Linked DNA regions of Homo sapiens. The protein of the gene in region 2 interacts with the protein of the main gene of each other region in a biochemical or structural test. Each region holds a gene or a part of one and is shown on either strand. Other genes may lie near its edges. The genes, in order: TOM1L2, MYO6 and SEPTIN9.

Region 1 (3,823 bases), on a different chromosome or scaffold from region 2:
TATACACACAGTGCTTTTGTTTTTAATTGGCTGTCATCCCCCTCCTCCCTTCCTGATTTTTGATGTAAAAGAACCCCTGCCCCAAAGACCCATTGTCTCCATCCTCAGAGATAGGGCTAGAAGATGAGGATACTATGCATCTGAAAATGGCAACAGGTCCCAAGAAAGGAGAGCTGCAGTGGCTGCATGTGATAACTGCTGGCCCCTCCCTCTGTTCTTTACAAAGCACTTTCACTCTCAGCAGCCCAGTAGGGGGCCAGGGTGGCGGATGAAGAAGTGCACTCTGGGAAGTGGCTTGCCCAGAGTCATGGGGTAGTTGGATTCTCCCCCAGAGCTGGAGACACCTCATCTCCCTCCTAGGTGCCTCCTCTGTAGGGGGCCTTGTCCCCAGGCAGAAGAGCCTGTTGAGTTCTTTAACCACAGGGTCAGCCTGGCTGTCTGTGGGCTGGTGACCTGGCTACCTCCCACACCAGGACAGCAGGCCTCAGGTTGGGGCCTCTGGCTGCTCTGGGCCTCCTCCCCAGAAGGTCAGCTTTCCAAACACATGCCTTGCCAAAGAAGGCAGCTGCCTGGGTGTCAGGGAGGAAGAACACACCCCGGGACATCTTTCCCAAGGGGCTGTCTCGAAAAGAAATTGCTTCTCTCACAGAAGCAAGGCAGGAAGGACCAAGGTCCTTAACTTCTAAGGGGGACCCCAGGGTCCAGACAGGGAGGGGATGTGTCCAGTAAGGCTACATAGCAGGTCAGTGGTAGAGTCAGGAAGGAACCCAGGTCTCCTAGCCCAGCCCAGGGCTTTGTCACTTCCCCATCCTGCCCCTTCCCAATGAGGCCCTGCACATGCTGCTCTTCCCCAGTCCCCAGGGAACCCCATGAGCTCAAGACACTACCATGTTCTCCAAACAAAATCAAGTCTGATGCACTTTAATTTTTGAGTGCACAGAGCCTCCATGGCTCCTTGAGGAGCCAGCAGCAGATAATATAATCTGGGCCACGGGAGGAGGCTGGTGCAGCTCCCAGGAGGCTGCAGGACATGGCTTCTGGAGGCACAGCCTCCACTCCCAAAGTACCTACTGAGTGACAGGCCCTGTGCTGTGGGCTTTGTGGCCCTGAGCCATCAAGGCCTCATGCGGTTTCCAGCTATTGGTGTCAACAGCGTCTTCCCAGAAACCCTGTGGCTGGCAGTGAGTGGGTGTTGTGTTGGGCACACGTGACCCTGTGTGTGCTCAGGCTCAGCCCCCTGTGGCTACTGCTCTGTGCCTCTCCCTAGAGCCTCAAGAGTGCCAAAGGTGGGGTCCCGCCCTCTGCAGCCCAGGCTGGAGAACCAGCCTGCACCGTTTTTGGAGTTTTCTTTCCAGCCTTTCTGGAGGATCAAAACCTAAAACATGTTTGAATTTTTTGCTTTTGTTTTTTAAAAACAAAGCTTCTGTTTCTCCAATAAGAAGAGCAGTATTTTACTATTACAGAAATCTGGAAACAGGGAAAATTAGGAAGTTTTGTTCAGGCTACCCTGGGCAGTGCTGTCCTAGGGTGGCCATGGGCAGACAGAGGTGGCTGGGCGGGCAGTGCTTGGACCAGTGCCCTAATTTCATTTTCTCTGCTCCTCCCACAGAAGGGTGATGATCTGGAGGAGGGTGTCACAAGTGAAGGTATGGCCTGGCCAGTGGCCTTACAGCCCCCTTTTGTTGCCTCTGTGCAGGCTGCACAGGAGCCAGCCCCCATCATCTTGGAGCCCCCGCTGCCAGAGCACCTACTGGTGCCAGGCCCTGAGCCATGGGCTTCACGGGTGGCTTTGTCCCACCCAGGTCTTACGCTGATTTGGGAAGTGTGATTTATCTCGCTTATTGGGAAACAGGTCAGAAAGAACATGTCAATTCCACAAAGTTGCAGAGCTGGTGAATAGCGGGTGCAGATTGCCACCTGGTCCTGACCCACAGGTGCTCAGCCCAGCTCAGACACGCAGTTTGTGGAGGTGCGCAGCAGCACCCTTGGGCCACTGAGCCAGAAGGGAGGAGCCTCTCCTGGGCCTCAGCTGATGGGCTGGATGGGAGCAGCGGGGTCTTAGTTCTCCCACATGGCCACCCCCACATCCCCTGCCCTTCACATCCTGCCTCCCCAAGCTCATCTTGCCCCACTCCATCTGCCTCTCCGTGCTCCTGTCCTCCTCTCCCCAGGTCTGCCAGACCCTGTGGCCAGACCGCTCCGCAGGGAGGGAAACTTCAGAGGACCCTGCTCCCTAGCTCTCAGTGCCCATAGAAATGGGGCACTCCCCCCTCCCCACTGCATTCCTCAGCATCTCCTCAGTCCTCCATTGGTGGGCAAGGGTGGGGTAGGTGGGATGGTTCCTGCCTGTTTAATCAGAAGCTGGCCCCTCCAGCTTACCCTGCCCCACCCCCAGTGCTGATCTGGAAAATGGACAAAACCCAGTGCTGATCTGGAAAATGGTCAGCGGTAGGGTGAGCACTCTGGGCTGTGTTTTCCAGAGCCTTTCCCTCCAGGGCAGGAGGACTGGGCACAGCCAGGAGCCTCCCCCCACACTGCAGCTCACGAACCCCTCCCTACCCACCTGCTCCTAGGTGGGCTTCATGCCTGCCCTAGAGGAGGAAACGGGCTGGGGAGTGGAAGGGTGCGCTTCCTCTGGTGGCCTGCCCTCACCAACCCTGACCCTTGCCTTGGTTTGTATTGCAGAGTTTGATAAATTCCTTGAAGAAAGAGCCAAAGCTGCTGAAATGGTTCCCGACCTCCCCTCGCCCCCCATGGAGGCTCCTGCCCCAGCCTCAAACCCTTCTGGCCGGAAGAAGCCAGAGCGGTCAGAGGATGCCCTCTTCGCCCTGTGAGCAGCTCTGTGGTTTGCCTCCCCAGATGGCGGGTCCCCGCTCGCACCCCGTGGACACCGGGCACTGGCCACTCCTACATCCCCAGCTCCACACGGCCTGCACACCTGTGTTTCCATGGAAATGCCACCGTGTCTGCTCCCAGGCCTCCCACTAGTCAGGACCAGCTTCAGCCACTTCTTTTCTCTGAGTGGTGGGACAACTGCAGCCAGAGACTCTCTCCCCTCCCACCATGGGCCCCTCTGCCCATGTTTCCTCCCAGGAAGAGCGGGCAGAGTGGCCCAGCCCCAGGCAGTGCTTCCTGAGCAGACCACCCGGACTGTCTTTCCTCCACCCGCCCATGGAGAAAGAGCACGCCCGGCCCCGCCCTGTGCTCACCTCTGCCTGGCTCAGCGACCTTCTCAGGCATTCTGCCCTCCTGGGCCCCTCTCTCCCTGAAGGGGCTTTGTGGCATCTCTGGAAGAGCAGGGTGTGCTGCACTCATGGGCCTGGTCTCACTCCTTGGACTTGTCACCTTGTGACATTTGGCTTATCAGCATTTGAGAAGGCTCTGCTGGGTCTCCATGGTGGGGGTCTCTCACCTTCTTGACCCTCTCTCCATCATTCAGCTGCCAGCCCAGGCTTCACACCCAAGCTGGCTCAGCAGCCGAGCCTGGCACCGAGGGTCCCTGCAGGCTCCCTGGGCAGGGAGAGGGCCAAGGACAATTGGGAGGGCAGCAGGCAGCCCGCAGATGGTGGCCATGTGGCACGCTGCTGAGACGACACTACCAATAAACCAAACTGCCACGCACACACTGCAGGCTCACACCCGCACACCTGGTCCTGGCTTGTGGAGGGACTTGCACTGGAGGTATTGCTCTGGCTTGCCTGGGGAAGTGTCACAGATGTGCACATGGGCCACACTCAGTGCTGTGGCCTGGCCTGCCGTAGCCTCACACATCTGCCTCAAGAGCCAGCAGCAAACAGCTTTGTGGCATCCTTGGAGGTTCCCA
Region 2 (3,600 bases):
GCCTTGGCCTCCCAAAGTGCTGGGATTGCAGTTTCATAGAGTTTAATTATGATACCCATAATGAGATATTTCATAATAATTTGTGAACTGGCCCTTTACTAGTATAAGATTGTTGCACATTTATTAGGCATCTTCCATAATTGGACAGATCACAGATTGAGGGGCTTGATCTACAAAATAATTTTCTAGGCTAATGGTCTTGTCCTTTTACAGATGAGGGAGTCTAGTCTCAAAGAATTAAATGCTTGCTCCAGAAGGGCAAAGTCTGGATTCACACCTGAGTCATTTGACCACGAAGCCCCTGTTTTTTCCACCAGAACAGTTTGCCTTGGTTTCAGTTCACTTGGTGGACTGTTTAAACCGGCAAAACTGGTATTATGTCAAAGAATGTAATTCAAGGTTTGACAAAAGCATCCAGGAGTAGATATGATAGGCCGTGAATGTAGTTCTGGAACAAATTTAGAATCCTGTGTTTGTGTCTTCATTCTCAAGTTGACAGCCTTGAACACTGATGCTGCTGCTTTCTCATTTCTCGTATAGTTCTAGGACATTATATGTATTGTGCATGTATGTATGCTGTTAAACATATGTATGTGTTTAACTTTGATAGGTTTGTGAGAACTAGAATTAGATTGTAATGTTCCTGGTTGGGATAGAACTTTAAAATTTTCCTCTAATGAAAAAGATAATTATTTATGCAGTAGCTATCCTTTAAATATTACATAATTAATTCTCTAATCTTGAGAGGGGGGACTCGTTTTTAGATTATGATTAAATTGTCACTTAGAAACTATTAGTACAAATCTTTTCTATGGTCTGTGGAATATCCCTTGAGCCGCAATAGACATAAATGACAACAGTGAGCAAATAAGCCCATTTTTTCTGGTAACAAACTAGGAATCATGCATTTCAGCAGTAGGATGTAGTTGGGTAAATGAGCAGAAGCAAGGTAGGAAGGCTGAGTTGGGTGGCTACCATTACGGATTTTTTTCATTATTTGCTTTGAACTATTAGGAATTGTGCATCTCAAGGATATTCATATTCAACTGTAAATACAAAACCACCACCTAATATAAATTAGTAATATTACTAATATAAATTGGTAATAGATCTGTGACACACACATCAAGAAGTAGAGTTAAATAAGCTTAAGTTCTCTTTTGGAGGCATTATATCTATATGCATGTATCTATGATCTATATATGTGTGTGTGTGTGTATATATATATATATATATATATATGTTTTTTGGAGACAGAGTCTCATTCATGCCACATGCAGTGGCATGATCTCGGCTTACTGCAACCTCCATCTCCCAGGCTCAAGTGACACTCCCACCTCAGTCTCCGGAGTAGCTGGGACCACAGGTGTATGTCACCATGCCTGGCTAACTTTTTTGTGTTTCTGGTGGAGAGGGGTTTTGCCATGTTGCCCAGGCTGGTCTTGAACTCCTGAGCTCAGATAGTGTGCTGCCTCGGGCTCCCAAAGTACTGGGATTACAGGCATGAGCTACCGTGCCTTGCCGGCATTATATAATGTTCAGAGGAACCAGGATCTTTTCATTTAAAATGGTTCTGATTTTATTTGACAAATTTGAGTGGACTAGAATCTTTAAATATTTTGCAACGTCTTTCTAGTTACTGTTTTCAAAAATTAGCTTATTTTTCTTATTGATTAGTGTAAGAATGACATAATGGTTTGAGAAATGACCATAAGTCCACCAAAAGTTTTCCCTGTGAGTACTGAAGCATAAAAAGTAAAACCTAAAGAAGAAATCTGGCATCTTTAGAAATCTTGCTGGTGCTAAAGAGAGAGGAAATAATTTTTTATACAGAAGGCATGTCTCAAGTGAAACCAAAACACCAAAGCACATTCCTTCAGTGTATATTCACATGGGGTAAATATGATGCTGAGTAATGTGCACAAAGGAAACTCTTGACAAAAACACAGTCATCTTTTGAGTATGTTAGGTCATTTGTTATTTCATTTGAAAATAACCTGGCTGGGGCGTGGTGGCTCACACCTGTAATCACAGCATTTTGGGAGGCCAAGGTGGGTGGATCACCTGAGGTCAGGAGTTCAGACCAGCCTGGGCAATGTGGTGAAACCCCATCTCTACTAAAAATACAAAAATTAGCTGGGTGTGGTGGTGGGTGCCTGTAATCCCAGCTACTTGGGAGGCCAAGGCATGAGAATCACTTGAACCTGGCAGGTGGAAGTTGCAGTGCACTGAGATTGGGCCACTGCAGTCCAGCCTGGACGATTGAGTGAGACTCCGTCTCAAAAAAAAAAAAAAAAAAAAAAAAAAAGTAAGCCGCTGACTAACCTTTACAAGGTAATATATTTTCTGTGGCAGAATTTTTTGATTTCTGATCTATGTGGATGAACATCTTTTTCAACAGATATTTACTGAGGGCCCACTGTGTTTTAGATATGACAAGTGTGAACTGATTCCTCCCTGTGCTGGCATATCTTTGGATCCAGGAAATAGGAAGAGTTGCAGAGATATGAAAAAATAAATAGAAACCATCCATTTGAAATCCAAAGACATATACGTCAAAAGCTAATAACTTATATTTGGATGGCATTTTATTGCTTTAAAATATTTTTGTATGCATTTGGTCCTTAAAACAACTTGATGAAGTAGATTTAGTAAATTTATTCCTTTTCTACAGGTAAGGAAATGGAGACTCAAAAAATTAAAAATACTGGCTGCATGTGGTGGCTCATGCCGGTAATCCCAGCACTTTGGGAGGCTGAGGTTGGGAGGATCACTTTAGCCCAGGAGTTTGAGAACAGCCTGGGCAACATGGTGAAACCCTTTCACAAAAAATATTATACAAAAATTAGCTGGGTGTGGTGGTGCACGCCTATAGTGCTAGCTGTGTAGGAGGCTGAGGTTGGAGGATCTCCTGAGCCCAAGAGGTCAAGGCTGCAGTGAGCTGTGATTGCACCACTGCACTCCAGTCTGGGTGACAGAGCAAGATCCCGTCTCTAAATAAATAAATACATTACTTAAAATTAAGTAACTTGTTCAAGGTCAATGTGGCTACTTAGAAGCATCATCTCTGTGTAGTCCCAAAGTAGTAAGTCCTCCACTTTCCCCCTATTGCTTATGTATTTAACCTCACATTATGGCTTCAAGTCAGGTGGTTCAGGAAGTTCTGAAAAATTAGGGTCACTAAAATGGTGATTATTAAATTGTTACAGGTTATTTTTTAATGGAAGATAGAAGATGAGCATGATGCATCATTATGGAACTACTTTAACATTTTAAATAGATTGCTAGACTGAAATTGGTAATTAGCTTTTCTAGTTGGAGAATTTTTAAAGAACAATTAGTTAAAAAAAGGAAGGAGAAAAATGTTCTGGGGGAATTTTGAAAATAACTTTTATTACTTTGTGCATTGGTAGTGATCCGATAGTTACAACTGTCTTTGTAAAGACTCACTAAAGAACTGTGTGTGCGTCTGTGTTGGTTCCTTTATGTCTTCATTTATTTAAAACGTACTGTAGTGTCTACCACGGACCAGGCACTATTCTAAGTTCTAGGGATACAGTGATTAAATTAAGACCAAGCCCCTGTACTGACATTTTATTG
Region 3 (3,823 bases), on a different chromosome or scaffold from region 2:
AAATCTGGATCTTTATATGATATCTCCTGATCTTTAAATGCTGGCACAAAGCAAAACAAGCCCTTTTTAAAACACTGAGCAGCCTGGCTGATGTGGTGAAACCCCATCTTTACTAAAAATAAAAAATTAGCTGGGCATGGTGACACTCGCCTATAGTCCCAGCTACTCAGGAGGCTGAGGCAGGAGAATCGCTTGAACCCGGGAGGCAGAGGTTGCAGAGCTGAGATCGTGTCACTGCACTCAGCCTGACTGACAGAGCGAGACTCTGTCTCCACAAACTAAAACTAAAAATAAAATAAAACACCGCAGGGCCAAACAAAATCAAATCCACAGGCTGTATTCGCCTATGGGTCCAGCCATGACCTCTAGCTGATCACGTGGCCGCAGGGCAGCAGGACACTGAGCCCCAGAGTCAGGGGTGTGCCAGGTGTGGGCTCCCGACATGGTGTCCCTCTGTCCCTCTGCACCCTGCATGCAAACTGCTGGCTGTGTTCTGATTCTGCAGAAGCCCCAGGGCCCCAAGGAAAGGTTGAATGTCCACTTCTACCAGCCAGAAAGTCCAGGGTTCAATGCCCAGAACTGAATGTAATGAGATGGGCTTACCAAGCTCATCACATCTACACCCGCTTAAACCTGGGCTGTAAAGAATATTATTACCGCCCCCGTACAGATGGGGAAAGTGAAGTACGGGGTAGACACAGAGCCAGACTGTACATCGGGCTGATGCCAGAAAGTGCAGAGCTCAATGCCTGGGTCCTCGTGCGGTTCCCAGGGCCTCCCGCGGTCCTCTGATCTGCTCCCTGCCTCCTGAGCACTGTCCAAACTGTCCCCACATGGTGTGCCTCTGTCCTATGGGTGCTGTAGAGCAGGGGCCGGCTTCCAGGTGTCCTCAGCATCCTTCCGTGCGGTCAAGTTGGAGAACAGAAACTAGACAGGAGAAGGCCTTGTCCCAGGTCCAACCCAAGAAAACAAATGACCTTCCCTGGGAGATCCGGTGAACCCCCTCCTTGGGAGTCCCCTTGGAGTCACCCCCACCATGGCCAACTCATGATCGAAGACACTGCACCAAAGCAGAGGCTGCCCTGGTGTGAGCTTACGATTGAGTCTACGGTGCGGATGCAATGATTTATTCCAGCCAGGCCCACGTGCACAAGCGGATCATTCTAGAACCGGAGCTGGCCCCTCCCCTAGGGCACTCCTCCTTCCTCCAGTTGTCTGCGTGGCTGGCGCCTCACCACCTTGGCCATCTGCGCAAAATGCACATGTGTGCCGGTCCCCAACCATCCTCTCCTCTCTTTCAATGCTTGGTGTCTTTTCATGGATGGGTCCCTCCCTCCCCACTAGCTGGCCTCTGTGCTTACTGCCTGGCTCTATGATCCCTCTGGGTGTTTCGGTCCAGCACCACTCCCATGCCCACTAGCTCTCAGTAAGCTCTGAGACAGCAGGGGCTGTTCCACCCGCAGGGGCCACCCCACCATCAGGACGGCGCTGCTCAAAGGCGAGTTTGTTCTAGATAACAGCCAGGAGATCTCACAGCCTCCAGAACTGCAAGAGAATACAACTGTGTGCTAGAAGAACAGTGAGAACAGGAGGCGCCCCATTCCGGAGGTGTCCATCTTCCCCAGGAGATGCCCCACTCTGGGGGTGTCCATCTTCCCCAAGGAAACCATGTCCCGGCTGGAATGTCAAGAAGGTGACACCTAAATGAAGAGGTGCCCACCCTGGCTCACGCCATCCCCCCAAACGAGCATGCCACCGCCTCCTCCTCCTCTTGGGAATCCTCCTCAAAGCCAAGCCCACTCCAGCCCCCTTCCCGGGGAGCTGGCCTCCCACACAGTCCACACCACCCCCTCCCCATGTCATCCTGGCCACGTCATGACTGTTGAGATTGGCTACGAGGGGTGTGTTCCGGCTCCCCGGGAACAGAGTTGAATGTTCTCTACTCCATGACACCATGCCTTCACCAGGCCTCAGGCGCTTCTAGAAAACCTACTAAGCCAGGCGTGGTGGCTCACGCCTGTAACCCCAACACTTTGGGAAGCCAAGGTGGACAGATCGCTTGAGCCCAGGAGTTCAAGACAAACCTGGGCAACATGGCAAAGCCCCGACTCCACTAAACAATACAAAAATTGGCCAGGGGTGGTGGCATATGCCTGTAATCCCAGCTACTCGAGAGGCTGAGGTGAGAGGATCACTTGAGGCCAGGAGATCAAGGCTGCAGTGAGCCATGATCACACCACTACACTCCAGCCTGGATGACAGAGTGAGACTCTGTCTCAAAAAAAAAAAACAACCAAAACCTACTAAATGCCAGGCGTGGTGGCTCATGCCTGTAATCCCAGCACTTTGGGAGGCCAAGGCAGGCCCAAGGCAGGCGGATCACCTGAGGTCAGGAGTTCGAAACCAGCCTGGCCAACATGGTAAAACCCTGTCTCTACTAAAAACACAAAAAATTAGCTAGGCATGGGGGTGGGCGCCTGTAATCCCAGCTACTTGGAAGGCTGAGGCAGAAGAATCACTTAAATTCGGGAGGCAGAGGTTGCAGTGAGCCCAGATCGTGCCACAGTACTCCAGCCTGGGCGACAAAGCAAGACTTCATCTCAAAAAAAAGGCTGGATCACAGGATCACAGGATAGGCACAAGCCCTGAGGGAGCTCCCAAGGAGGAGGGACGCACTAGACCTTCACCCCCATTTCAGCCTGTGAAGATTCACTTTCGTCTGAGGTTCTGTAGAGGGTTGACTAGTGACCCCCAAAAAGACATGTCTAATACCTAACCCCAAGAACCCACGAATGTGACCTTATTTGGAAAAAGGGTCTTTGCAGATGTGATTAGGGATCCCGGGATGAGACTATCCTGGATTTGGGATGGGCTCTAAATCCAGTGCTCGGTGTCCTTATAGGAGAAAGGCAGAAGGGGACTTGGGACACAAAGAGACACGGTGGGGAGGGCTACGTGATGAGAGCAGAGACTGCAGATGCTGCCAGAGCCAAGGAGCGCCTGGGCCAACGCAAGCTGGAGGAGGCAAGGAAGGGTCCTCCCCTCGAGCTGTCGGAGGGAGTGTGGTCCTGCCAATACCTTGATGTCAAACTTGTGGCCTCCAGAACCATGAGCGAATCAATCTTTGTTGGGCCACTTGGTTTCCAGTAATTTGTTCCAGCAGCCCCAGGACACTCACAACGAGACCCCTGGGAAGATGAAACCCCTGGCTGCACAGTGGCCCAGGGTGAGGCTAGCTGGTGTGGTCACCCACTCTCCAGCCCAGCCCCAATCCCACCACAACCACATTCGACAAATGGCCCACTGTGGGCCAACGGACACGTGGCCATTCCAGAGCTGCCACATCAGGAGCCCAGAGGAGCGAGAGCTGCCTCCTTCCCCCTTCTTGGAGTCGCACAAAAACCCCAGATGGTTGGAGAAGTCATCGGAGGAATCACATCACTCTAGATTCTTGTTTCATTGCTGGGATATGTGGCAATGAAACAAGATCATCCCTGCCAGGGATGCCTCATGGGCAATTGCCTCCCCACGGAGGACATTGTGAGTTGTACCCAGCCGGGAAACATTAGGAGATGTCTGTCACCAGGCTGGCAGAACAGGGCTCCCCAGCATCTCCTCCCCCATCAGAGTCCTAAGACTGCGCCCTGGGTCCTGCAGTCACACACGGTCGCCCCTCTCTTCCCAATGTGCAGGCCTCCTGGGAAGCCCCCTGCCACCATCCTCACAGTGGAACCGGCATAACCTGCCCAGGGGTAGCAGGTCCTTGTCACTTTACACGTCTCCATCTTCCCTGTGGAGGGAGACGCAGCCAAGGGGTATCCAC

What was found.
Region 1: the proteins of MYO6 (region 2) and TOM1L2 form a complex in vitro, tested with the Homo sapiens proteins (one study listed by BioGRID).
Region 3: the proteins of MYO6 (region 2) and SEPTIN9 form a complex in vitro, tested with the Homo sapiens proteins (one study listed by BioGRID).

Annotation. Positions count from the first base shown.
Region 1 is NC_000017.11:17,846,646-17,850,468, reverse strand, and holds part of TOM1L2 (TOM1-like protein 2), read left to right. Parts: intron 1-1,609; coding exon 1,610-1,646; intron 1,647-2,685; coding exon 2,686-2,834; 3' UTR 2,835-3,823. UniProt on the Homo sapiens protein: Acts as a MYO6/Myosin VI adapter protein that targets myosin VI to endocytic structures. May also play a role in recruiting clathrin to endosomes. May regulate growth factor-induced mitogenic signaling.
Region 2 is NC_000006.12:75,752,239-75,755,838, forward strand, and holds part of MYO6 (unconventional myosin-VI), read left to right. Parts: intron 1-3,600. UniProt on the Homo sapiens protein: Myosins are actin-based motor molecules with ATPase activity. Unconventional myosins serve in intracellular movements. Myosin 6 is a reverse-direction motor protein that moves towards the minus-end of actin filaments.
Region 3 is NC_000017.11:77,396,447-77,400,269, reverse strand, and holds part of SEPTIN9 (septin-9), read right to left. Parts: intron 3,287-3,823; exon of another isoform or gene 3,216-3,286; intron 1-3,215.